Regions from separate parts of the Homo sapiens genome. Here all the other regions are reported to be linked to region 4. Evidence: microRNA targets listed by miRTarBase, many of them from high-throughput screens and not tested one by one. Region 4 holds a microRNA gene; each other region holds the end of a gene's coding sequence.
Evidence for each region. Region 4 holds the annotated microRNA hsa-miR-3928-5p (UGAAGCUCUAAGGUUCCGCCUGC, at 3,525-3,547, opposite strand). A microRNA usually pairs through its seed, bases 2 to 8, with sites in the 3' UTR of a target mRNA and lowers its output. Matches are read on the target gene's strand: a 7mer-m8 pairs with bases 2 to 8, a 7mer-A1 pairs with bases 2 to 7 and ends in A, and an 8mer does both.

Region 1 (5,154 bases), not on the chromosome of region 4:
ACAGAACACCGAGGCTAGACAAGCAAACGGCCACTTGCCCATGCTACATGGCAAATGGCACAACTGAGATCTGAAGCTACCCTTTTCATTTCCAGGTAGTGTAGCAGGGTAGGGACGGTGGGACAGTAGGATGGCGGTGACAAGAGGCCATCGCACGTGACGCTTCCTTCCTGCCCCATGCCATCATAAGCAGCCTCTACATGAGTGAGACAGGCTGCCCTTGTTTCACCAAGTCAAACAGCTGAAGGCAGAAAAGATTTGTACATTAGATAGGGTGTTGGTGGTGGGTAGGGAGCAGTGCTGGCTAGCAAATGGTTCATGCCCTCTGAGGGGAAGACAAAATGAAACACTACAATTGAAGCCAAATATTCAAGAAGATGTTGTTTCTGGGATGATTTTAAAGTAACATTGCCCAGAGGGTTCTCTAGGCACCCAGAGCCTAGCACGCTGTACAGTCAGAATCCAAACTTGTCCTTATCTACTTCCTCTACAACCACATAACATCACCTGGGTATCAGGAACCATACAGACACTTTTTTTTTTTTTGGGAGATGGAGTCTCGCTCTGTCACCCAGGCTGGAGTGCAGTGGTATGGTCTCAGCTCACTGCAACCTCCACCTCCCAGGTTCAAGCGAGTCTCCTGCCTCAGCCTCCCAAGTAGCTGGATTACAGGTGCCTCCACCACACCCAGCTAATTTTTTGTATTTATAGTAGAGACGGGGTTTCACCATTTTGGCCAAGGTGGTCTCGAACTCCTGACCTTGTGATCCGCCCACCTCGGCCTTCCAAAGTGCTGGCATTACAGGCGTCAGCCACCATGCCCGGCTCAGATGCCTTTTGGGAAGAGACGAGGAAAAGACAAGTGGGTTATTAGTAGGCTTCAGCTAATACTGTTTGTCAAAAGCAGGGAATGATCCAATGTCTATGCCCAGGTAAGGTATGGGACACTCTAAAGTTAAATCTATACTTAAAAATGAGAATTCAGAATGAACATATTATCCTGATACTGGAAATGCCCTTCCAAAAACTAAATTTACCTAAGGCAAAAGGGTTGGAATTCCGTTTTTTTTTTTTTTATTTCAAACACCAACTCGAACCAGATCCTCTTCTTATATAGAAGGGACTAGGTTAATGAACCCCAAAACCTTTAAGTCAATGTATATGACACTGTTTAATCAGAATAACAAATACAGAAAGGTTTTCTTAAATTTTCTCTTCACTCTTTTCTCCAATACAGTGCTGGCACTAGAGTCATTCTTAAACTTCCTAAGCTTCAGTTTCCCCATCTATAAAATGAGAGTGAAAATACTCCTGAATGGCTCAGAGGGTTGTGATTATGATCATATGACATCGACAGTTCTCTAACACATCCCTTGGCATCAAGTGTTACATTAGAGACTATTTTTTTTTTTCTCAGACAACATGACTTTATTACTGGAAACCAACTAAGAAAAAATTATGATTAGGAGGAGAAAACAGCAAATGGTCGGGGTAAAAAACCAATATTCAGCAATCAGTAGCTTTCACCAATCAAAAGAACTTTTAGAAGATATAATTGAAGACAAAATCCTATTTATAATAGCAAACAACAGCAAAAGCAAGGAATGAACTTAGTCAATGTGCACTGCCTGTAGGAGATGGCCTCGTGATCCGCCCGCCTTGGCCTCCCAAAGTGCTGGGATTACAGGAGTGAGCCACCGTGCCCAAAAAAATAAATTTTGTAATGTTTCACTTAACAAAAGAGATACATTCTGAGAAATGTATCATTAAGTGATTTCATAATTAGTTGATTTCGTTGTCACGCAAACATCATAGAATGCACTTACACAAACCTAGATGGTACAGCCTACTACACACCCAGGCTTTATGGTAGAGCCTATTGCCCTTGGCATTAGAGACTATTTTTATAAACTTCAATAATAAATAAGAACTGCCCCTTAGAGCTGCTCTCCCCTCCATTCTAAACCTGGTGCAACTTACGAGGAAAGCTTGAGTTAGGAAACAGGAGTTGGGCATAAGCACTTTGATTTCTGCATCCCGAAGGGGAAGTTTCCAAAAATTTCTTAAATCACAGTGTCTAAATTAGAGCTTCAGAGAAGTGCCAAAAGCCAAGGGGAGGTAAGCTGAACGGCAATAAAAAAACACACGACAGGTCATATTTCATTTGGTTCTTTTTATTAGAAACTGAGAATACAGCAAGTAGGGAAATCCCACATCAATGGAACCATCACACAGATGCCTTTCTGGAACCCCAACCTTCTATGATCCCCAAAAATGTGCTTTGTGGCTTTAGCATAATTTATAAAGGGGAAGAGGGAAAATACTGAAAAAGGCCACTATTTAATGGTGAAAGAATGAAGCTGTAGAGGTCCCAACCAGCCTAGGGCCAAAAAAGAAAATTAAAAATCTGCACAGAGCAAGCAAGCCTCTGACTGCTGAGAGTAAGGCATTCAGGCGCCAACCTGGTGAGAGTTCTCAGCGAGCACTGTCAGGTCAAGTGCACATGAGGCTGTTGGTAGTGAGCTGCACGTAGACACACACATAGAAATGGGCACATGCCCACATACACACCCGAAAAAGGGAGATTTTACTGGATTACACATCAGTGATGTTAATTTCATTTTTCCTAAGGGTTTGTGCTATGTTGAACCAGATCCTTCCAGCTTTGGGGTGTGGGTGACTGCACCCAGAGGCTGCTACTTCTGTTGGTGTTGTGACAGGGCTGCACCTATACGCTGTATCCCAAAGTGCATGACCGAAGAGCAAGTCTGGCTTCTGATACGTGCTGTTGCTCCCAAGAAACTAAGTGGGCTTCTGTCCAAATGGCCACTGTCCTGCTGGACTATGCTTTCTCAAAGGGATTAATACTGTTCTTTATTCTGTCAGGCACTGCACCAGTTCATCCACTGAGTCTTTTGCTCGGTCCACCTAGCACCTAGGACAGTGACCTTATCCAGAACCAAAACGTTCAAGTTCTTCTCAACTTCTACACTGGATTCTTTCTTCCTAGATCCCACCTTTTGCTGGAGATTGCAAGGGCAAGGGAGGAAAATAACTGAGAAAACTCTATTGAATAAATAGGAGACCCTTCCCATATTCCCAAACACCTACTGAGGACGCCAGTCCCCATGCTCAGGACCTCCATATTTAGTTCTAATACCCACAACCCCAGGATATAATGGAGTCATCCCAAGTCTTTGATGACAGTAACCTAAGACTCGAGCACTATTTTGGTGGTTCACCTATGGGCCAAGATCAGAATTCCATGAACCAGATCCTTTCCCCACCACTTTCTCTGACACCGTATCAGGTAGGCCTGTGACATGAGCCATCGTCTTGTACCTCACTCCCTGGCAATAACATACCATTGTATTTAAAATGCCACACCACTCTTATCCCTGTAAAGTGAGGTTCAGTGAGTGCTGACAACTCCGTACTACAACTGGCTTTAAGAGTTCTGCTGGCTTTCTTATTCAAGGAGAGCCGAGGTGTCTGTCACATCCAGGCTTACCAAGACAGTGTACCAGAGGTAAAACTCATCTTTCCTAATCCAAAGGAAGGGTCTACCAATCTATGTAGATGAGCTCAGGAGAAACCTGGACACGTCAGAATCTCATTTGTGGCTGGCTCCCATGCCAAGAACTATGTCAGAGAAAGGTCCATTTCTATTCCCTCAAGGAGGAAGTGTAGTTAGGGCAGTGATTTTTAATAGAGGGAAATTTAGAGAGTGTTCCAGAGCTCCACAGCAAGGATATGGAAAACTGTCCCATCCCTCTAATAAGACTTCCCATAAAAGTGAGCGGGATGCCAGGAAGTAATCAGATCAGCCCATGCTAATGTTTCTAGAGCTCCTCCATGGCCTCCAGCACCCCTTTACCAGCTGCTAGGAGTGTGTCAGTCTCTCAAATGACAATGACACCCTAACTAGAGCCTTTATCTAACATCCTGTCACCCACTCATGTGCTGCTTCCACTGAGAAAACACATACCACTCCCCTCTACCTCAGGCCTCCCAAAGGGAGTGGTCATGTCACCACTGGGCTAGGGCTATACTCTCTGCCCCATTAGGGTCCAAGGTATGTCAGCCTTTAGAAGGCATCTTGGTGCACCAAGACACTGTACATTCCGGGGCTATCACCTGATCCTACAGTCACTTTTTGTGCAAAATTCAAACAGTGTGTGGTACTTGCATGTTTCATTCTATACAAAAATTCTCCCTCCCTCCCTTACCCCTATGTTTTAAACATTTATATAAAGTCTTATTTAAACAGTTAGAAATCTTATTTACATTAATTTCTTTGTTCTCCCAAAAGAGCATTTAAAATCACACTCCCACCCCTTATCGGATATAAATGTTCACTTAAATTGGTTTGTATTATTGTCATAGAGAGAGAGAAAGGGAGAAGAAAGAACCACCAGCTAAACTGTTTCGCCATCTTCTACAAATAAATATGATATGGATCAGAAGCCAGTTTGCCAAGGGTCTTGCAGAGCCCGCAATCAGTAGATCCCAAGAATAAGCCAGGGTTTGGGCTATGTCTCCTTTTCTCCCAATTGATGCACTCCATCCTTTGAGGTATGATTTATTTTTGTTTTTCTCTTCTCAGTCATGTACCACGCAGAGCCACTGGGCCGTCACAAAGCCCACGAGGCTGTCAAAGTTTTGGGGCTCCTCTGGTACTGGCATCAGTAGCCAGCAGGGAGGCCCGCAAGTGCCGCAGGCCCTGGTTTAGGGTCATAGTCCCTGGAGACTGGTAGGTATCACAGTGCATCCTCTTCACTGCAGCCCCCGCCGATCATGAAACGAAACTCCTGGAGGTTTGAGACACCATGGAAGTGAACAAAAGCTCCAGCAACCACAAAGATATGAAACAGCTGATGAGAGTGAAACTGGAGGGGAAAAAAGAAGAGAAGGGGGTAGAGAAACCCATACATTATTAAGACTGCTAAAGATTCTTAGGATCGTTTAATCCTGGTTTATGCTGAGCAGAAGGCAGGGAATGGATGTGACAGAGCTCAAATTCAAGGCGTCCACAGATCCTGGAACATCCATTAGGTGTAACACATTCTGCTGAGCTGAAAGCCAGCTGTTCCCAAAGAAACCAAGGTGCTGCCACTAAGCTCTACACATAAAAATCTACAAACTTAACACTGA
Region 2 (5,154 bases), not on the chromosome of region 4:
ACAGCCCAAATTTGTTGGTTTTCTAAACTAATGTGATATTTGAAAAGCTGTAATTCCCAGTAAATTAATTCAACAAGTATTTACTAAGCTTCTACTATGTGTTAGGCATTTGAGATACTTTATGGAGAAAAGGGACAAAACGCCATGCCTGGTTGGAGCTTTTATTCTAGTACCGTCAGAAAGGGTAAAAGACAGCTCAAACACATTAATTATGTAAGACACACACTAAATTAAATGGTAATAATTTCTATGGAGAAAAATAAAGCAGGAAAGTCCTTGTGCGATGGTGACATTTGAGCCATGACCTCAAGGAAATAACAGTGAGCCATGAAAAAATCTGAAGGAAGAACTGCACTCTAGGCAGAAAAAATTGACAAGCGCAAAGAGGTCTTGGTGGTGCATGCCTGGTGTGTCTGTCTGGAAAGCAACAGGGATGCATGTGGCTGGAGCACAGTAAATCAGGTAGGAGTATAGGAGGAGAAGCGGTCTTAGAGAGAACATGCTACCAGATTATTTGGGGCCCACAGGCTATTGTAATGACTCTGGCTTTTACAGAAAAAGATGGGAAACCAGTGGGAGCTTTGAGTATCCAGGGGTGTGATCTGTATTTTGACAGGCTCACTCTGGCTGCTGTTGAGAACAGACTGAAGGAAGCCAAGGACAGATTCATGGAGACCTCTTAAGAGTCAACAGCAAAATTCCAAGCACAGATCATGGTGGATTAGAACAAGAAGTTAGTAGTGGAGGTAGTAAAAATGGAAGCCCAAAGGTTATTCTCATTCCAGCTTCTAATTAGTGTCAGTTCCTCTCAGATTCTGGCATTAGATAATTGTCTTGATTTTGTGCGTTTTTCTTAATTTTCGGTTTTCATGATTGTTAGATACCATTCTGAATTAGATATTGTCCTGAATATTCAACTGTACCTAATTATGATCCTGTACTTAATATGCTTAAAACATGGCAGATGCTTGGTAAATTCTTACAATGAATGTGTATCTTAAAGGGTTTGGGTAGAATGAAGTAGATTTATCTTCACAAGCCTATTTTCAGGACCACATTTCTATTGTTATTGCTTTTCTCTCTATGATTAGCATATATACCCATACTTTAGCTACTTGTGTTCTTTAGGCTTATTTAGGAGATGGATGGTGGATTTGTATAGTTTAATTTTAACCTTAATACTCAGTCTTTCTTTTTAAGGGTTTCACTTCAGAATATGTGTGTTTGTGTATGCATGTGTATATACATATGTAATAAAAATCAGATATATTCAAAAGTAAAATCATTTCTCAGAAATTCATAATTGCAAAGGTAAGCTCATATAAATTCACTGAAGAACGATAAACAAATAAATAAAGGAGATGAACTTACTCATGAAGAAAACTTCAAAGACAGTTTGAAGAAGTATTAAGTTGGGTAAAATTATTTGCAGGTAAGATTTTTACTTGGAAAATAATATATCACTTGAAAAACTATTACTCACTATGAAGTGATTCAGCATAAAATAAATATATGGAAATGGAGTGCACATATAAACAAGAAGATCTTCTCTTAGAGGATATAATGGAAGGAAGATTCACTTAAAATCACAATAACTGATAAAACAACTGGAAATAAACCCACCTCTGGCTACATATTAGAATCATGGCTGGAGGGATTGACCAGCAAGACAACAATAATAGCACAGCAGGCCCAGGCTGTCTCAGAAGCTCTAATCAAGTGGTGTAGTGTAGAGCCTAGGGGGGTATTTTTTAAAGTCTCTGCTTTTCAAAAATTTTTCCGGACAAATTGATCTATATGAAGAAAACTTAGACTACTACTGAGGGATATAAAAGAAGACTTGAATAAAGGGAAAAACATGCTAATTATTTAGAATAACTATCATAAAGAATTAAATTCTCTCTAAAGTAGGTTATACATTTAATGATTTCATTTAAAAGCCAACAGGACTTTTCATTTTTGTTACTACACAAACTTATTCTAAATTTGTATGGAAAAATCAAGAGTTGCTAGGAAGGACAATTCTGAAAAAAGAAAACTATTGCAAAGGGACTAGTCCTACCAGATACTGTCTACCAGACTAATAAAATAGACTGGTCTGGCTGGGTGTGGTGGCTCATGCCTGTAATCCCAGCACTTTGCGAGGCTGAGACAGTCAGGTTGCTTGAGTGCAGGACTTTAAGACCAGTCTGGGCAATGCAGTGAAACCCTGTCTCTATAAAAATTTAAAAAATTAGCTGAGTTTTGTGGCGCGTGCCTGCGGTCCCAGCTACTAGGGAGGCTGAGGTGCGAGGATCACCTGAGCCTATGAGATTGAGGCTGCAGTGAGCAGTGATTGTGCCACTGCACTCCAGCCTGAGTGACAAGGGAAGACCCTGTCTCAAAAAAACAAAAAACAAAACAGAAACAAAGAAAATAGAATGGTCCAGTGGAAAATAAAATGTTCAGAAATGGCATAAGTATAAATGGGACTTTGGTATAGATAAAAATGGCATCGCAAATCAATGGAGGAAAAGATAATGTACTCAACCAAAGGTATTATATGATGAAGTGACATTTTTACGAATGGGAGAAGAGACAGTTTACTCAATAAAAGATCAATGGGTAGGCATATTTAAAAAAACAACCAAAGTTAGATTTCTAATATGTTTAATACATTCCAGCTGGGTCAAAGATCCAAAGGTGAAAAATAAAATTATAAAAGAAGACAAGTGGAGGCCAGGCGCAGTGGCTCACGCCTGTAATCCCAGCACTTTGGGAGGCCTAGGTGGGCAGATCACCAGGTCAGGAGATCAAGACCATCCTGGCTAACACGGTGAAACCCCATCTCTACTAAAAATACAAAAAATTAGCTGGGTGTGGTGGCGGGTGCCTGTAATCCAGCTACTTGGGAGGCTGAGGCAGGAGAATCACTTGAAACCGGGATTGCACCATTGCACTCCAGTCTGGGTGACAGAGCGAGACTCCGTCTCAAAAAAAAAAATGACAAGTGGAGAAGGCCATTCTAAATATGATACAAAATCCCAAAAGCCACAAAAGCAAAGATCTGTAAATTTTGTACTAATATTTTTAATTGACAAATCATAATTGTATATACTTATGGTGTACAAAGATTCATAAATTTGCTTACATGAAAATAAAAATTTCTACATATCAAAAAATACCAGAACAAAGTCAAAAGACAAATGACAATGACAAACTGGAAAGAAGATATTTGCAGGATCTCTTACAAAAAGCTAATATCTAAAGCACACCTGTAATACAAAACAAAGACCAACAACCAACAGAAAAATAGGCAAAGAATAGAAATAGGAAAGGCCATGGTAAAGCAGATTCCAGTGGCTGTTAAATACATGAAAATATGCTCTACGTTACTCATAAAAAGAAAAATAAAAATAGAACATTTTTATCTGTTAGGTTGGCAAAGGATAAGAAGACATGCATTGATGGTGAGATTATCAGTTAGTATACCTTCTTTAGAGGTAATTTGTAGTATCTAGTGTAATTTTGCTAAATATAGTCTTGACTCAGTAATTTCACCTCTAGATATCTACTGTTAAGTGAAAAAAAAAAGGAAAAAGAAGCAACATGCAGAACAATGTGTGCAGTATGTTACCGTTTGTGTAGGGGGAAAGGAATATATACATTTGTTTATAAATTTGTGGCCAATCTCTAAAAATGCGTAAGCAGGTGGTTTCGGTACTTGCTTCTTGGAGGGGGAACTGGATGGCAGGGAAGAGGGAAAGGACAGAGACTTCACGATCACTGTTAACCCTTTTGTACCATTTGAAGCTTTTACCCTGTATATATATTACCTATTAAAATAAAACAGTAACAAAATCAGGTACATCCAGGGTTTACATCCCGTTAAATACTCCAAATACTCCCATTAAATACATCCAAACAATCCCATCAAATACAAGTAACTCATCGAGCACCATCAAATGCTCACATACAACTATTTTATGATACATATTATTACAATATTTTATATTCTCTATTATTTAAAGGAACATAACTGTTACAGTATTTGCTTCAATTCTTTTGATACTTCCACTAAATTGTTAGAAATTGTACAAAGGCCTAAATAATAACCATTTTTGAAAATATGTGATTTTATAATCATTGGCATTTTATCTTAAAATACACTACATTCTTACAAAATAATGAAAAATTGGTAATTATTATTATTTTATTTTTATTTTTTTGCGACACAGTCTCACTCTGTTGCCAGGCTGGAGTACAGTGGCGCAATCTCAGCTCACTGCAACTGCTGCCTCCCGGGTTCAAGCGATCCTCCTGCCTCAGCCTCTGAGTAGCTGAGACTATAGGTGTGCACCACCGCGCCCAGCTAATTTTTGTATTTTTAGTAGAGACAGGGTTTCACCATGTTGGCCAGGATGGTCTCAATCTCTTGACCTTGTGATCTGCTTTCCTCAGCCTCCCAAAGTCCTGGGATTACAGGTGTGAGCCACTGTGCCCGGCCAAAACTTGGTAATTATTAAAACTGTTTCATTTAAAATACATAATTATGATCTTGTAATATATTTATATGTATCTCTAGAACACTATTTTTAAACTTTTTGTTCAAACTGCTCTTGGATTCATATGGGTTTTAAGCCACTGATCAATTGCATTTTCATACTTCCTTGGTTCCTTCTGCCAGTCTTGGTGCCACCTAAGATTTGCTATAACGTTTGAATAATTCTGTCCTATACTTTGTTTCCACTTGATAAACTGCTCTTTATTATACTGGTGGACAGAAGCAGAAACTTTAGGGTAGTTTATAATGGAATGAAGCTTCTGATCCAAAGAATAAGTAATTTCTGGAAATTTTACAGCAACATTTGTTAATTCATCTGGATCCGAGGAAAGATCTGAAAGAAAAAAAATAAGTATCTGTCAAAATAGTGACCTGCTAAAAATTTTTTTAGAATGTCATTATGACAGGTAATGTATTAGATTTTTTTTTTAGATTTTCAGTTCCTGTTAGTGTAGTAAAATGAAGGACAGTATAAATGGTAAAATAACATACCAGGAGTTAAACACCCTATGTTGCATGCCCAAATTCCCTCCTTCCTACCATTGTCCAGCTATCCCACTTTTTTTTTCTTTTCTTAAATGCCAGAAAAAGTCAAACTTTTATCATTAGTA
Region 3 (5,154 bases), not on the chromosome of region 4:
AAAACAAAAACAAAAACAAAAAAAATCCCCAACCAGCTGAGAGACTTGAATGTCTCAAGGAATTAGGATCTCACAGTTCTCCGTTACTGGCAACAGCCAGACTTAAGTCATTTTGGATTAGCTGTTATACAGTGTTAAAAACTGTGCAACTCTAGAATTGAAGTATAATTATTTTATTAAATTATTTGCTAATAACCAGCCAGTTTTTTGTATCGTAAGGACAGTTACAACCAAATATCTCTGAGTAGCAAAATATAATTTTAGGGCCTAGTGTTATACGTCAGGCCTAACCTCTACTGTGCAAAGATCATAAATTGAAGCTAGATAACAATATGAAGCCAAAAAGCTATTCAAGCTAACCACCAAAAAAGAATAGTGCTGCTTCAAGTTATAAACCTCAGTGACCATTTAAGTGAGGTCCCATAATGCCATAATATACCTGACCTATTTTATGAATGGTCAAGGAGTACATTTCTGCTTTATTAGCTAAGTAGCCTGTCAAGTTCTTAGTGATCAATGGTGAAGGGAAAATATCCCTTTTTAAGCCCTGTGCTGGTGAGTCCTCCCGGCTCCAGGAACATCTCAAGAGTGCATACTAATTTAGACAATAAAGATGTGGCAGTTACTAGATTCAAACTTACATGTTGTTTTTTCTTTTTTCCCTAAAGGAGGGGCAACCCCCTTCATTTATCTCGTGAGCGGTATCGGAAGCTCCATTTGGTCTGGCAACAACACTGCATTATAGAAGAGATTGCTAGGAGCCAAGAGACTAATCAGATGTTATTTGGATTCAACTGGCAGTTACTGTGAGCTCCAACTCTGCCTCAAGACAATCACAAATGACGACAGTAGTAAAGGCTGATTCAAAATTATGGAAAACTTTCTGAGGGCTGGGAAAGTATTGGAGGGTCTTTTGCTCCATGTCCAGGTTCACTTACATCAATAAAATATTTCTTAATGGAGTATTGCTTTCAATTAGCAAACATATGCTTCACAGGAAAAAAGGACATAGATCAATCTGTTTTATGTGCTAGTATTTCCAGGAATTTATTCCCCTTCATAATTTGTCTCATTTCATTTTATTTCATCCACTTGGTAGATGAAGTCACGTCAAACAGTTGTAGACATTTTATATGTTGGTTAACTCTTCTGCAATTTTGTATTTGGTGTTTTCCCCCCAAGTTTAGTTCAACTGACATTGGATCACTGACAAAATTCTAATAATCTGTGATAGTCTTCCTTGCAGTTAAAGAAGAATTGCAGAAACCATGCAATATACTTGGGAAAGATTCCAAAAATAAATTTTTTATTATTTCTCTTTTAAGGAAATACCCCTAATGTGCCACCTGCTGCTATCACCACAAATTAAACTCAATCTCTATGTGGACAGAGGATGATTTCTGCCAATATGGAAAAGCTTTTTTCTCACTGTAGGCCTCAAGAAAAGTTAGGGTAATGTATTTGTTATTCATTCCTGACGGTACAAAGAGCTTGCAGTTCTCACCTCTGACTACCAGTAGCTTTGTTGAGTTTTGAAATAATACTTGACATTTTCCAAAGGCAAATCTCATTCTGCAAGGAGATTGTGGCACCATCCTGTTTGACTCTCAGAAACCTCTTGTAATTCTGATGTAAAAACTGTAGAATGAAGATGAGAAAATTCTCGCAATGAGTGGATCATGACAACTGTAAATTAGAACAATCAGATTTAAACCAATTCCGCAGTCTTCTATATCTTTGTAAAAGACAAATCCTTGATGTTGTCTGTGTGCAACCTTTTCATAAACTCTGGTTTTATGACTAGTACAAACCACCAAAAAAGCCATGTGATCAATAGTCTGTGTCCTGTTATAACATGCTGTGGTTGAGCCATCTTGTTTATAAATAATAGAGCTCTCCTGAATTTGTGCATAGACTTCTTGGTTCCTGGCTTTTGTTTTTTGTATCAAGAGATTGTGATATAAAACAGCAGAAGATAAATGGAAACCTTCCATTTTAACTTACGTTGTTTCTGGGGTAATGTTAGAACCTTGAAAGATGCATTCAAAGACTGTATCTTATTTTGCCCTTGGCTATTAGTGTCTCACATATGTGTGTAAATGTTTTCCTACCTTCTTTTTGCTCAGCAAAGGCAAGCAAGTAAAATATATTTGCTAAGTGATTAGTGATGCACATTTGGGGCTAGATTTTTTTGGTACTTTTATGTAAAGAAAAGTGGATTTTGCAGTAAGGGATTGGCATGAGCAGGCGTCAGAATCACAATCATGATTTTCTACTTGAATAATTACAATTCAGAAGGTATCTGGATAAATAGATACATGTCTAGTGAACAATTTGTAACAATAACAGGTAAGGATCAGGAAATTCAGTATTCAGTTTGTCAGATTTGCCAGAATGATGAAAGTATTTGAACATGTGTGTTTGTTTCTTATATAATTGTATTGAGTGGATTGTTTGACTGGGAAATCTGGGCTAGAATAGGAAACAGAAGATACTGACTTCTACCCTAATAGATGGGCCCCAATTTAGCAAAGATAAACTGACTTTATTTTTAGTCCTTTTTATATTAACTTAATAAATTCTGGAGTTAGGCTCTCAAGAGGACAGAGGGACTGTCTGGCAATGGCCAGCCAGACCTTTACTGCCAAAGAACCCATTTCATATTGCGTTCCACTGATTGAGATTGATTCAGATTTTTGCACTGTAGATGAGCGTATGTCTCAGTGCTGCCCCAAGCCCCAGGGATTTCTCATTATGTTCAAATGTCCTAGTGATTTACCTTAATCATTGCAAACAATTATGCTTATGAAGTTTACTTACAAACAAGCAACTGAGTCACTTTATTTTCTTTAGTGTAGTATGTGAAGGCACTGGTTCAACAGGATGGCTCCAGAACTGTGTTTTTCTAATGTTTGGTAAGGGGCTAGTGAGAATTTTAATGATATGGTGAAGAAAAATATATCTGTATAATTAATTTATTATATTGGTGTATGGGCTGTGAGTTCACCTTTTAGTGGTCATTTGTCATTTCATAACAACTATGCATTTTGGTTCACTGTGATGATGATCTATATTTAGTGACTGCAACATGTTTATACCACTGATTCAAATTCCATCCATGATGAAGTTATACAAATAATGCATATATTGATAACTTTTATTGCAAAAATGTAAATTTAAAACTTGTATAATGTTCTTGTGCTTTTTAAAATAAAATATATGTGTATATTTAAAAAGAAAAATAGGGACTTCTCATGTTTGGGGATTTGGGTTTGAAGTATAAAAATCTGCTAGGAAGACTCTCCAGTTGAAACCTTTGTCAGCCGAGGCAAATGTTTTAAAAGACATAGGTGTTTAGTATACATGGGTCTCCAAACTTTTTAGCCATATACTCCATCAATAAATAGTTTTTAGCATGCATACCAAATAGAATATAAACACATAACACATATTTTATATTCTATATGCAGTGCTTTACTAATACATCATGCAAATTATAAAACATAGCTTTAAAAGGAGATTTAAAAATCAGTTAAAAATAGAAATAGATATTTAAATATCTTCCAATCCAATCTGCATCCTTTTGGGTATGCACGCTCTAATATGGAGACAGCTGTCTAGAGCAGCAGTATCCAGAAGAGTTTTGCAATAATAGGAATGTTCTGGCCGGGCGCAGTGGCTCAAGCCTGTAATCGCATGACTTTGGGAGGCCAAAGTGGGGGGATCACGAGGTCAGGAGATCAAGACCATCCTGGCTAACACGGTGAAACCCCGTGTCTACTAAAAATACAAAAAATTAGCCAGGCTTGGTGGCGGGCATCTGTAGTCCCAGCTACTCAGGTGGCTGAGGCAGGAGAATGGCGTGAACCCAGGAGGCGGAGCTTGCAGTGAGCCGAGATCACACCATTGTACTCCAGCCTGGGTGAGAGAGTGAGACTCTGTCTCAAAGAAAAAAAAAATGTTCTGTGTGTATTTACCATATGGAATGGCAGTCACTATTCTCATGTGGCTGTTGAACACTTGTGATGTGGCTAGTGCAACTGAGGGCCTGAATTTTTAATTTTTAGTTAATTTAAATGTAGTCATGTGTGGCTGGTGGCTACCATATTGGGCAGTATACATCTAGTGTGATGGTTCTCAAACTTAACTGTGCATTACAGTCACCTAGAGAGTATTAACAAAATACAAATGCCCAGTTCTCACCCTCGATCTGGAATCAATCTTGTGGGATTGAGCCTTAAAATAAGCAGGGTGGTTTTCTTCCATTTCTGAGCCATGACTCTTCATAAAATGAAGAGTTTGCTTTCTTTTTAGCTTGGTGATTTTCAGACTAAGTGCCAAAGATTCTGGGAGAAACGTAGGCCCGAGAGGGGAAAGAGTGCCAAAGCTGGATAGTTGTGATTTTTCATTTTGAGTTTCTGTGTAAGCTTTCATTTGAGAAAAGGGTACCTGGAATTTTTAAAAGGTTAGATGCAATTGCTTTAGTTTTAAGCTTTAAAATATTCTATGAGGGGGCCAGGCACGGTGACTCATGCCTATAATTCCAGCACTTTGGGAGGCTGAGGCGGGCGGATCACGAGGTCAAGAGATCAAGACCATCCTGGCCAACATGGTGAAACCCTGTCTGTACCAAAAATACAAAAATTAGCTGGGCATGGTGGTGCGCACCTGTAGTCCCAGCTACTCAGGAGGCTGAGGTGGGAGAGTCACTTGAATGTGGGAGGTGGAGATTGCAGTGAGCTGAGATTGTGCCACTGCACTCCAGCCTGGCAACAGAGTGAGACTCCATCTCAAAAAAAAAAAAAAAAAAAAAAAAAAAAAAAAAAAAAATTCTGTGAGGGGCAACACTGAAGGCAAAGAACGGTTTTTGTCTGTTTTTTGTTTTGAGTCGGAGTCTCGCTCTGTCACCCAGATCAGTCAAGCGAAATTTGGGGAAAAAATAGAAATGAAGACTAAGAAGGAAGACAAAAATGAAAAGTTACCAATGGAATGCACAGTAAGGAAAAGCTGGAAAGACCTGGGCATTGTGGCGCACCTGTAGTCCCAGCTACTTGGGAAGCGGAGGTGGCAAGATCCCTTGAGAAGGAGGTCAAGGTTGCAGTGAGCTGACATCACACCACTGCCCTCCAGCCTGTGTGACAGAGTGACACCCTG
Region 4 (5,154 bases):
TGTGCCTTCCTGTAGGATGCATTTCATTCTATAGTCAATGTGCTGCTGCAGCCTTGCTACTCGTGCCCACAGTCGTGATTGCTGCTTCACCAAATCCCGTGTCCACAGTTAAAACTTCGTGCTTCTTAAGACCTGGGGGAAAGCTATAGATAAAGGTATGGTGCAGGTTCTCCCAGAAACAATGCAAGCTGAGGGGGAAACGTGGTGGCTCACGCCTGTAATCCCAACACTTTGGGAGGCTGAGGAGGGCAAATCACCTGAAGTCAGGAGTTCGAGAGCAGCCTGGCCAACATGGTGAAATCCCATCTCTACTAAAAATACAAAAATTAGCTGGGTGGTAGTGGCATGCACCTGTAATCCCAGATACTCAGGAGGCTGAGACAGGAGAATCGCTTGAGCTAGGGAGGCGGAGGTTGAGGTGAGTCAAGATGGCATCACTGTACTCCAATCTGAGTGACAGAGTGAGGTGCTGTCTCAAAAATATATGTATAATTTTTAAAAGTATATTGAAAGCATTGGGTGAGGTGGCTCATGCCTGTAATCCCAACACTTTGGGAGACCAAACTGGGAGGATCCCTTGAGGCCAGGAGTTTGAGACCAGCTTGGGCAACAGCAGGACCCTGTCTCTACAGAAAAATAAAAAATATTAGCTGGGTGTGGTGCGTGCCTGTAGTCACAGTTATTCAGGAGACTGAGGTGGGAGGATCACTTGAGCCCAGGAGTTGAAGCCTGCAGTGAGTTAGGATGGTGTGCCACTGCACTCCAGTCTGGACCACAGGCTGAGACCATGTTTTTTTAAAAAAATAAAAAATAGATAATGGATCGATTGATAGAGAAAGCTCACTCTGTGATGAACCTGTTCCGAGTATCCTCATAACAACTTTTTGAGGAAGGAAGAAATTGGAACACACCTGTGGTTAAACAAGTTGAGTTTATCACTTGTTATGGGGTAAGGGTGAGAGGACATGAATCATGAGAAACAATAGGGCAGCTGGGCTTGGTGGTTCACATCTGTAATCCCAGCACTGTAGAAGCCCAAGGTGGGAGGAACACCTTAGGTCAGGAGTTCGAGACCAGCCTGGCCAACATGGTGAAACCCTGTCCCTACTAAAAATACAAAAATTAGCCGGGAGTGATGGTGGGCGCCTGTAATCCCAGCTACTTGGGAGGCTGAGGCAGAAGAATCACTTGAACCCAGGAGGCAGAGGCTGCAGTGAGCCGAGATCACACCACTGCACTCCAGCCTGAGTGATAGAGTGATACTCTGTCTCAAAAACAAACAAACAAACAAACAAACAAACAAAGGGGCATCTCAGTAACAAAGTGTTACAAAGGACACATAGGATTTGGGCTTGCATTAGGTGATTTGGACGAGGGCTTAAGAAAATGGGGTTTTCTGGATTGGATGCTGCCTATGAGTGAGTACCTTGATAAACATTATTTAGAAGGAGGGAAGAGTAGACCGAGGCTAAATCTATAATCTCTATACAAGCCAGAATAGGGAAATGTTTGGCCATTTTTGTAGTTCGAACAATGCTCATGTTTTGTCTGGGTTTAGACATGATTCAAGTGGTTTTGTTATTGTCTTGATCCATCATGGTCACATAGTGGCTTTGTTTGATGTTGATGTTCTGTGAAGTTTTTATGTTCAATAAGAGAACACACCAAGGTCTATTTGTGAGTGCCAGACCATCTCCTGGATGTCAGGGGCTGTTTTTCTCTTAGCGCTTGGTTTCAAATCCAGGTTTGTGTGACTGGAAACATCCCTTGTATTACTTCTTGATCACAGGAACTTGCAAAGGTGGCTGGCAGACTAGGACTTTCATCTATGAGCTTATTTCATCTACTATTTTTTATTTTTTTTTCTGAGATGGAGTTTCACTCTTGTCGCCCAGGCTGGAGTGCAATGGCACGATCTTGGCTCACTATAACCTCTGTCTCCTGGGTTCAGGCAATTCTCCAGCCTCAGCCTCCCAAGTAGCCGGGATTACAGGTGCCCGCCACCACGCCTGGCTAATTTTTGTATTTTTAGTAGAGATGAGTTTCACCATGTTGGCCAGGCTGGTCTCGAACTCCTAACCTCAGGTGATCTGCCTGCCTCGACCTCCCAAAGTGCTGGTATTATAGGCGTGAGCCACCGCGCCGGCCTTTATCTACTATGTTCACCTCCTACTCAGGTCCGATCCCTAACCGTTCCTGGGATAACTGTAGGTACTTAATAAATGCTTGTTGAATGAATGAAGATGGCTGTCAAGAACTCCAATGACTGCTTGAGTGCAAATCACAAGCTCCATCACCTATCAGTATGTGATTTGATACAATATGTATTAACAGCTAATCCACAATCCATATTCAAATTTCATTACTTGTCCCAATATTGTCCATTACAACTATTCCACCACCACCACTACCCCAGTCCAGGGTCCTATTTAGAATCACACACCACATTTTGTTGTCATGCTTCTTTAGTCTCCTTTAAACTGGAACAGTTCCTCAGCTTTTCTCTGTTTTTCATGACAATGAGTTATTTTGTAGACAGTGTCCTTCATTTGGGGTTCTCTAGCACTTCCTCATGAGATGTGTACGGTGCACTTTTGACAGAAATACCACAGATGTGTTCTCAGTGCATTTTATTAGGAGGCCCTTGATCTGACCCATTAACTAGTGGTGTTAACTTTGATCACTTTGATCTGTTTGTTCTGCTAGGTTAAACCTCTGTAACATCACCATTTTCCCTTTGTAATCAATAGCTAATTTATGGGAGACACTTTTGCTGTTGTAAACATCCCGTTTCTCTAGTTTTACCACACATTATTGATTTCCTAATTCCACCATGTTTATTAGCTAGCATTCTACTAAAAGGAAGACTTTCCCTTCACCCATTAATATGCTCACTTCTTTATGTTTGTAAAGACTCATGGATTACTATTTTATTCAATTAGTTATACTCTATTACTATCACTCCATATTTTGATTCTGAAATTGCCCTGACTTGGCCAGTAAGATCTCCTTAAAGACAGCTCCTGTGTTCTTTGACACATTCCCATGATTCTTATTACCATCATCCTTATATTCTGGTGTAACAAGATGTTCCAAGTTTATCTGGTACTTTCCGGAATGAGTTAGTTCTTTCTCTCTCTCTTTTTTTTTTTTTTTTTTGACGGAGTCTCACTCTGACGCCCAGGCTAGAGTGCAGTGGTGCGATCTCAGCTCACTGCAACCTCCGCCTCCCGGGTTCAAGCGATTATCCTGCCTCAGCCTCCCGAGTAGCTGGGATTACAGGTGTGCGCCACCACGACCGGCTACTTTTTGTATTTTGAGTACAGAGGGGTTTCACCATTTTGGCCAGGCTGGTCTCGAACTCCTGACCTCAAGTGATCCATCCGCCGCGGCCTCCCAAACTGCTGGAATTACAGGTGGGAGCCACCGCGCCCGGCCGGAATCAGTTTTTTTCTTTTAGGAGCCCCGAACCCAAAGCTCTTTGAAAAGCTGCCGAAGCTCCAAGGTTCCTCCGCTTCCTGCCCGCAGGCGGAACCTTAGAGCTTCAGCCATGGAAATTAACCTCTTCCGGTTGGGGCCGGAAGTCCCTCCGAGAGGGGCGGCTCCGCGTCATGTGACTGGAGTCCGCGTAGGAGGGGTCGGAGGTCTTACCCAACAGATTGACGCGGCGTTAGTATTGGCCGTGTACCCGAAAAACTGATTGACTGGGCTGGCGTTAACTGTGCGGAGGCAGGTATGTGAGGGGCTGGGGTTGGGGCGGGGGCGCCAAAGTTTAGGGACGGGGGCGGGAGACCCGGGTCCGCCTTCCCAGGACACACGGGCTTGAACATCTGAGCCCAGGGGCCCAGAGACAGCAAGACCGGTCGTGTCTGTCCCCGAAAAGAGGACGAGCTGGCGTTGTGGTTCTGCGTCCCATGAATACAGATTGGGGAAACTGAGGCCTTGCGAAAGAGAAGGGCTCCCACAAGCTCTCCTTTCGAGGCATGGGCACTGATTCCCATTCTATCCCCCGTGCGAGACCGCCTCTATCATCTGGGAGTGCATTTCACGAGTTTGCCCTGAGTGGAGAAGCAGAGGCCGGGGAGCGCGGTGAACAGAGTTGGGCTGAAAGTAAGAGACCTGGATTCGAGACTTCGCCACCGACAGACAATTGTGCGTTCTGGGCCAAATCTCTTCCCTGTGCTGGGCCTCAGTTTTCTCGTCTCTAAAACGGGGCAGTGTTTTTCAAAATATGGTTCTTACACCATCTGCTTTGTAATTCTCTGAGATGCCGGCTTTACAGCGCGGGACTCAATTCAGACTTCTGGTTTAGAATCTGAACTTATGCGTAGGGGGGTCCTGTATATACTAATGTTTGAAGCTCATTGATTTTAAGTGCTTTCCTGCTGTGAGCACTAGATATCCATTCTTCGCTTTGAGGCAGCTGGTGCCAGTTCAGGAACTTTGAAAGAACTGGAATGGTTAGCTCAGTAAAGAGAGCACTGGAAGGGAATTAACTTTTTAAAAATTGAAAATACTGTTACGGCAAAGAGGGCTTCCACTTCATCTTTAGGCTAAAAGAGGCAGAACTAGGACTAACAGGTGAATTCTACAGGAAGGCAAGATTTTTGCTTAATAGAAGAACTTAAATGGAAGAATCGTCAGAGGTGACCACCGATGGAGTGAATGGATTGCCTCCGTGCCTCCTTTCGAGGGAGGTATATAGGTATTAGATGAAGGTCCTTTCCAACTTGAAAGTCTGTGATTCCAAGGAGTTGTTCTGCATCTTTCTGGTGCTGACTCTGCTCTCAAGGCAAATGTGACTTTTTTCTTCTCTTTTGACACTTCCATCACTTTAGCCTACATCTCCTGTAAATAAGGCCAATGCATCTGACCTTACATAATCTCTTCCTGGTTGTCCTGTGCACCATCCTTCTTTTCAAGGACTTTGGAATGACCCAATATCTGATAGAGGCACCTTAAATGTTTATTGAATGAATAAGTAAACTGGGTCCCACCCCATGGGTTAGTAGCTTTTTTCTAAGAACAAGTTGGAAATGCCTCTGAAGATTTTATGTTTGACCAGGAGAAGCCAGTGAACTCTGAATCACAAAATTGAGGACTCTCAGTTGAAAGCACCCCTTGAGGTTGTTCAGACCAGCCTTCTCTTCCCTG

Region 1: the mRNA of ADIPOR2 is a reported target of hsa-miR-3928-5p. Seed matches in the 3' UTR shown: 7mer-A1 at 2,356-2,362.
Region 2: miRTarBase lists ARSK as a target of hsa-miR-3928-5p. Seed matches in the 3' UTR shown: 7mer-A1 at 3,788-3,794.
Region 3: miRTarBase lists UBR1 as a target of hsa-miR-3928-5p. The part of its 3' UTR that is shown has no 7-base or 8-base seed match.

The regions. Positions count from the first base shown.
Region 1 is chr12:1,785,679-1,790,832 of GRCh38, reverse strand. It overlaps ADIPOR2 (adiponectin receptor 2), which reads right to left. Exons shown (of 8, transcript NM_024551.3): 8 at 2,159-4,889. The coding sequence ends at 4,761. Among named protein-coding and RNA genes, the nearest start is that of LRTM2, 32 kb to the left of the region's middle.
Region 2 is chr5:95,602,960-95,608,113 of GRCh38, reverse strand. ARSK (arylsulfatase family member K) reads right to left here. Exons shown (of 8, transcript NM_198150.3): 8 at 3,012-4,877. The coding sequence ends at 4,588. Among named protein-coding and RNA genes, the nearest start is that of GPR150, 15 kb to the left of the region's middle.
Region 3 is chr15:42,940,985-42,946,138 of GRCh38, reverse strand. UBR1 (ubiquitin protein ligase E3 component n-recognin 1) reads left to right here. Exons shown (of 47, transcript NM_174916.3): 47 at 669-3,242. The coding sequence ends at 810. Among named protein-coding and RNA genes, the nearest start is that of TTBK2, 23 kb to the right of the region's middle.
Region 4 is chr22:31,156,571-31,161,724 of GRCh38, forward strand. It overlaps MIR3928 (microRNA 3928), which reads right to left and starts at 3,549; the gene lies at 3,492-3,549. It overlaps RNF185 (ring finger protein 185), which reads left to right and starts at 3,612. Exons shown (of 7, transcript NM_152267.4): 1 at 3,612-3,733. It also overlaps the pseudogene SNRPNP2.